Linked DNA regions of Homo sapiens. The protein of the gene in region 1 purifies or fractionates together with the protein of each later gene. This does not show direct contact. Each region holds a gene or a part of one and is shown in the gene's direction. Other genes may lie near its edges.

Region 1 (3,292 bases):
AGCCAAGTGGAGATACAGAAGTTCATAGAAAGAATGTAGGTAGGGTAGAGATACAAGCTTAGGGAGCATCAGCTTGTGGATAGTGACCGAAGTCAAGGGTGAGAGCAGCAGCAACCTGGGAGGAGTGCAGAGTGTGGGGACAGAAGAGTCCAGGGACAAAACACTAGGAACCCTAGCATCTGAGAAGCAGGCAGAGGGGAATGGCTCCCTCTCAAAAAAACAAAAACAAAAACGAAAACAAAACGCCATCCAGAAATGGAGGAAAACAGAGAGAAATATCATGGGAGCCAAGGGGAGAGAGGGTTTTGAGAATGGAGACCTGAAAATGTGAGTACCACAGAGCAGTCAGGTATGATAAGGACCAACAAGTGCATCTGTCCACAGTGACATTAAAAACAATAGCAACAACAGGTCAGACACGGTGGCTCATGCCTGTAATCCCAGCATTTTGGGAGGCCAAGGCAGGTGGATCGCTTGAGGTCAGGAGTTCGAGACCAGCCTGGCCAACATGGTGAAACCCCGTCTCTACTAAAAATACGAAAATTAGCCAGGTGTGGTGGCACATGCCTGTAGTCCCAGCTACTCGGGAGGATGAGGCAGGAGAATCATTTGAACCCAGGAGGCAGAGGTTGCAGTGAGCCAAGAATGCACCACTGCACTGCAGCCTGGGCAACAGATCGAGACTCCATCTCAAAAAAATAAATAAATAAAAATAAAAAGAACAACAACAACAAAAACACCATATCTTAAGTATATGGTTCATTATGCTTTCAAAGCACTTTCATATTTCTTATTTCATTTCTTTGGTGCCTATATAACGTTCTTACAGATGCAAAAGCTACAGGGCAGTGAGGTTAGGGGATTTGCCAAAGCCATCTAGCTAGTTAGCAACTTGGCTCCTGGAATTCGAGATTTCAGTAGAGAATCTTCACCATGCTTCCTGGTTCTACTCTTAGCTTTTTAACCAACCAATAAAGAAACCAGAATAGGGCCTGTTCCAGGACAACTACTCCTTATTAGTATAGATTTTTAAAGGTTTGCTAATCACACGTTGTTTTGCACTCCCCAGAACCCAAAGATGTCAATACTGTGGGATCATCTGAATCTAAAAGGGCATTACCTAATTCTTCAGAAGAAAGGTTTGCACCTAATTCTGTATATGGGAGAAACCATTGAAGGTTTTCTAGCAGAGACCTGATATAAATTTGAGTATGCCTTAGAAAGATTAATCGGTATTATTGAACTCGTGTTTGACTGTGCTTATATCTGGGTGATAGATATTCATAGCACCTGAAACAAAATAATGAAAATACACTGTGAAGACCCATCTGGGCTTCTTTTGTAACTGAACCACTCTCCTCACCCTGCCTTCCACTCCAATGAGTAGGCTGTCTTCACTACAGAGGGTCACTTCTCATATTTGGAAGCAAAAGCTCCTTGCATATCTGATGCGGTCAACACTGACCTTCAGATCTCAATTCTCCCACCCCATGCCTTCCAGAGGCAGGCCTCGCTCTCCATATAGAAGCCTCCTACTCACTTATTCACTCAGTCATTCTAGCAAAGGGAGGGGGCCTGCTCCCTCTGGCCTATCAGATCTGGACCTAGCCCAAACTTACCCATGTGGGGCCAGGCCTGGATCTCTTCTCTGCCTAGCTCTCCATTGGGAGCAATTTACAACACACTTATCTCTGGGAATTCACTGCTCTATTGGGCATGGGTCTGATTATCTCTCTCTAAAGCAGTCTATCATTCATAGCACAGAAGGAACACTAAACAAAGACCTCTATATCAATTTATAACATTCTATTCTCTTTACAGCTCAGATGATGTCACGGCAATGTTATCACACTGGAGGTTGGGCAAGGCCCAGAAACAGTCATCACTATGCAATGTTGATTTTCTGAGGGTGACTCACAACCTTATTTCCAGCTGGTGGCCTGTTTCTGGCCTTTTCTGCTGACCCATAAAACTAAGCTTCCACCTGGGTGCATGGCTGTCAGGAACAGCTGGAACATTATCTGGATTCTGGTACCATAGGTCAAGGATAGGTGGCATTTCCCTCTATCCAGCATAAGATGAGCTGTTTCTCTTTTCTAAGTTTGCTATGTATGTAGTCCCCCTTCTCAGGGTGAAAGTGGCTGGCTATACAGAAAGGATAAAAGCAAGATAGATGAATTGTGATCACAAATGCCTACTTTATCACTTACTTTGCTGTTTTGCTAAATGGAAACATCTGTTAATATTAAATATGAAAACTCATTTTTTGTTTTTTTTAGGGACAGAGTTTCTCTGTCACCCAGGATGGAGTATAGTGGTGTAATCTTGGCTCACTGCAGCCTCAACCTCCCAGGCTCAAGTGATCTTCCCACTTCAAACTCCTGAGTAGCCACCATGCCAGGCTAATTTTGCTTTTATATTGTTTGTAGAAATGGGGTCTCGCTATGTTGCTCAGGCTAGTCTCAAACTCCTGGACTCAAGCGATCCTCCCTCTTCAGCCTCCCAAAATGCTGAGATTATAGGCATGAGCCACTGCACCCAGCCAAAACTCATTCTTAAATTAGAAAAAGTAGAGGTGTTACCTATGTCTCTGTCTCCCTTCCGTATAACCTTAGACAAGCAAGGTAATGTCAGTTATCTAATCTGTCAAGTAAATTAATGAGATATGAGTTAAATAGATTTCTGAAGTCATCTTAAGCCCATGTATCATTCCACAGGTAAAAACTCTTTAGGTGGAAAAGTCAAACTGAGCTGATATTGTGATTTTTAAAAAATAGGAATGAAACATTCCAGCTTCTGCATCACAGACTTTTCACTTGTCTAAATGTGTCTATGGAGGTAGACTACCTGGGTTCAAACCCTGGACCTCCAAGCTGTGTGACTTGGGACAAGTCACCTAGCCACTCTAGATAAAATGGGGATAATGATATTAATAGTTACTTACCTCAGGGGAGTGGGGGGGTTGTTGGGATGTTTGAATGAGTTATTAAAGTAAAGCACCTAGGTCAGAATCTAGGGCATAGCCAGTAACAATAAGTGTCAGCTGTGTGTGTGTATCAGACACTGCCAGGCCATCTGGGGCTAGGCTTTGTTGCAGTGGCTCCCTTATAATGCAATAATGAGTCCCATACTGTTTTTCCTCACTGTAGGTCAGTGCAACTGAATGGCCAGCCCTTAGTGATGGTGGACGACGGGACCCTCCCAGAATTGAAGCCCCGCCCCCTTCGGGCCGGCCGGACATTGGTCATCCCTCCAGTCACCATGGGCTTTTATGTGGTCAAGAATGTCAATG
Region 2 (3,654 bases), on another chromosome or scaffold:
TTGTTTTTCAATGAAAAGTCTGTTGCCAGATGAATTGGAACTCCTTTGTATATCATTTTCTTCTTTTTTCTTGCTGCATTTAGGATCCTCTCTTTGTCCTTGACCTTTGAGAGTTTGATTAGTGTATGTCTTGGGGTAGTCTTATTTGGGTCAAATCTGTTTGTTCTCTGACCTTCCTGTAGCTGGTTATTTACATCTTTCTCAAGTTTTGGAAAGTTTTTTATTATTTTTTTGAATAAGCTTTCTATACCTTACTTTTGCTCAGCTCCCTCTTGAACACAATAATTCTTAGAGTTAGTCTTTTGAGGTAATTTTCTTTATCTTGTAGGAGATCTTTATTGCTTTTCACTCTTTTCTTTTTTCTCTTCTGTGTACTTAAAAAATAGGCTGTCTTTGACTTGGCTGATTCTTTCTTCTCCTTGATCCATTCTGATGTTGAGAGCCTTTAATGAATTTTTCAGGTCAGCAGATGTATTTCTCAGTTCCAAAATTTGTTTGATTTAAACAAAATTATTTCAATTTTCTGGTTAAAATTTTCTGATAAATTTCTGAATTTCTTTTCTGTGTTATCTTGGAGATCACTGAGTTTCCTTAAAACTACTATTTTGAATTCTTGGTTAAAAAGTTCACATATTAGGCCGGGCGCGGTGGCTCACGCCTGTAATCCCAGCACTTTGGGAGGCTGAGGCGGGCGGATCACAAGGTCAGGAGATCGAGACCATCCCGGCTAAAACGGTGAAACCCCGTCTCTACTAAAAAATACAAAAAATTAGCCGGGCGTAGTGGCGGGCGCCTGTAGTCCCAGCTACTTGGGAGGCTGAGGCAGGAGAATGGCATGAACCCGGGAGGCGGAGCTTGCAGTGAGCCGAGATCCCGCCACTGCACTCCAGCCTGGGCGACAGAGCGAGACTCCGCCTCAGAAAAAAAAAAAAGTTCACATATTGCCATCTTGTTAGGGTTGCTTGTTGGTTTCTTGCTTCGTCCATTTGGGGATCATGGTTCCCTGCTTGCTCTTGTTTCTTGTGGATGTATGTCAGTGTCTTTGCATTGAAAGATTAGTTATTTATTCTGTTCTTCTCTGTCTGGCTTGTTTTGGTTTCTATTGGATGTATTTGGTTAGAGGTTATTTACTGCTAGGTTACTGCCTCCTTTTTGGCTATAGGTGATGCCTTAAGCTTAGGTTCACCTTGGCTCTAGTAAATTATCAAAATGCTGCCCTTCCCAAAGGGGCAGTTCCCAACAGGGATATCTTGGCACTGTGGGAAGGCTGACTGTGGAGGTTCATGCCCAGTGGACCTGTGGGACAAACCTACTGTATGGTGCTACTGAATAGCTACTGTGATTTGGCATCTCCTTTGGTAGAATTACAAAGGAGGGCTCTCCTTTCCAGGGCTAGGGATTGTAGTCCTGCTTCCCCTCTTAGTCTCTATCTACCTCATGGATATTTCTCCCTTCAGGTACTTGTGATGCTTTCTGTGGGTTAAGGAAGGGACAAATCTCCTCCTAGGGAACCCAAGATAGTGGGCAATCTGGTTCCACTTTGGTCTTACTTTTCCAGTGTAGAAACAGTGAGTTGGAGGGAAATTTTCCTTGCAGTTGGTGCTCGGCAAAATGGGGGGAGGGGCATAGTAGATGTGGAAGTCTGATTCTCTGTCTGCTGGGAGTTTTTTTTACTTCTCTGTGGCCCTGGGAATGATCTCTCCTTATATTTGAGTTCTAGCTTATTTCTGGCCGTAATCTCATTGCTGTACATTTGTTTTTCTTTTTCTATGGGGGGAGTCAAACCAGCTTGCTTCTGCATCATCATTTTGGAGCTGGAAGCCAACCTATATGGCTTGAGTTTAATTGCTGTAATAATCATGTTGAAAAATATTTCCTACACTATATGATTTAGCATTGGAGCAAAAACTTAGTGTTTGCAGAAAGGCACTCAGAGCAGGATGCAAATTTAACAAGAATAAAGCAAATATTCATCATTGGAAGGATGACCACAGTTGTACTTCGTTGCAAAACAAAAACCGAGTGCTTTATGGGATTAAGAAGAGGAGCTATTATATGAGCAAATGAAAGAGTGATACATTTTATACCCAAGATATGTACAAACACTTTCCATATCACAAGCTGAGCAATATAATTTCAGGGAGGAGAAATTGCCAAATCCTGTGGAATAGATGATTGGTGTGACCAGTTCAGGACCATACAGAACTGTTGTTAAGGCATTGTCTCATAGCTTTAATTGCCTCCTTCCTTTATAAATGAAATCAGTGAATTTGATCATCTTTTTATGTGTTTATTCACTTTTTACAAAAGATAGACATTTGATTTTTCTGTTTTAGTCTGTTACCAGATTTTTTTTTTTTTTTTTTTTTTCCGAGACGGAGTTTCGCTCTATCGCCCAGGCTGGAGTGCAGTGGCAGAATCTTGACTCACTGCAACTTCCACCTCCTGGGTTCAAGCCATTCTCCTGCCTCAGCCTCCCAAGTAGCTGGGACTACAGGTGTGTGCCACCATGCTCGGCTAATTTTTGTATTTTTAGTAGAGATGGGGTTTTGCCATGTTGGCCAGGCTGGTCTTGAACTCCTGACTTCAGGTGATCCATCTGCCTCGGCCTCCCAAAGTGCTGGGATTGCAAATGTGAGTCACTGTGACCAGCCTGTTACTACATTTTCTTATGTCAAACCATCCTGCATTCCTGGGAAAGCAACTTGCTGTTTACTTTTTAAATTCATGGTTATCTCGTGGACGTCTTTTCAGTTTAGTGTATACAGGTCTTCCTTATTTTTTTAAATGGCTGCATTATTTTCCTATTGTATAAATATACTATAATTGTTTAAATAGTTACCTTGTGGATATGCATGATTTCCAGTTTTTGCTATTAAAAATAATGTACCAATGACTGTCTTTCCACATACACCTTACATACTCAGGCTAGCATTTCTGCAGAATAAATTTCTAGAAATTTATTTATTATGTGCATTTCATTGTCTGCTAACATGAAAGAAAGTTAATTTTTAAGACATATTTGCTTGGTTTGAAAATGTCAAATATTGTTCGAAAATATACCAGTGGTTGTCTTTGGGGTGATTGGCTTATGCCTGAGTTTGCTTATTATTATTATTTTTTTAACTTCAATACAAAAGATAGAACTTATTTTAGAAAACTAAATGCTTGTGAAAGCAAATGCTGCTTTAGAAGTTCCGTGATTGTGAGCAATTTTACATGCCCAATGATACATCTAGCATAATGCAAAACACATGACAAATCGAAAAGATATTTGTAGAAGTAAGTTGATTGATTTACTGAGTGAAACAGAGAGATAATTTTTACCAATTCTTTTTCAGGGTTTTTTGATTAACTCAAAACCAGAGAATGCCTGTGAACCCATAGTGCCTCCACCAGTAAAAGACAATTCATCTGGCACTTTCATCGTGTTAATTAGAAGACTTGATTGTAATTTTGATATAAAGGTATGATTATCTTTTTTCATTTTTTGTTTCCTATTTGTTCAGTTAGCTAATTTAAATCATTTACATCCTCCCTTGTTTCAGAAAACATTTAAAATTTAAAATCCAGTAAGATTGAAAATAAACTGGATTCATAGAATAGAAATAATGTTTACTGGTTCTAAGAATTTTCAGGCATTTGTTGGACATC

What was found.
Region 2: the proteins of HPSE2 (region 1) and RNF13 purify together in Homo sapiens (affinity purification with mass spectrometry; one large-scale study listed by BioGRID and IntAct). This does not show direct contact.

The regions. Positions count from the first base shown.
Region 1 is NC_000010.11:98,459,597-98,462,888, reverse strand, and holds part of HPSE2 (inactive heparanase-2 isoform 1 precursor), read left to right. Parts: intron 1-1,069; coding exon of another isoform or gene 1,070-1,103; exon of another isoform or gene 1,104-1,139; intron 1,140-3,149; coding exon 3,150-3,292. UniProt on the Homo sapiens protein: Binds heparin and heparan sulfate with high affinity, but lacks heparanase activity. Inhibits HPSE, possibly by competing for its substrates (in vitro).
Region 2 is NC_000003.12:149,868,688-149,872,341, forward strand, and holds part of RNF13 (E3 ubiquitin-protein ligase RNF13 isoform 1 precursor), read left to right. Parts: intron 1-3,341; coding exon 3,342-3,467; intron 3,468-3,654. UniProt on the Homo sapiens protein: E3 ubiquitin-protein ligase that regulates cell proliferation. Involved in apoptosis regulation. Mediates ER stress-induced activation of JNK signaling pathway and apoptosis by promoting ERN1 activation and splicing of XBP1 mRNA.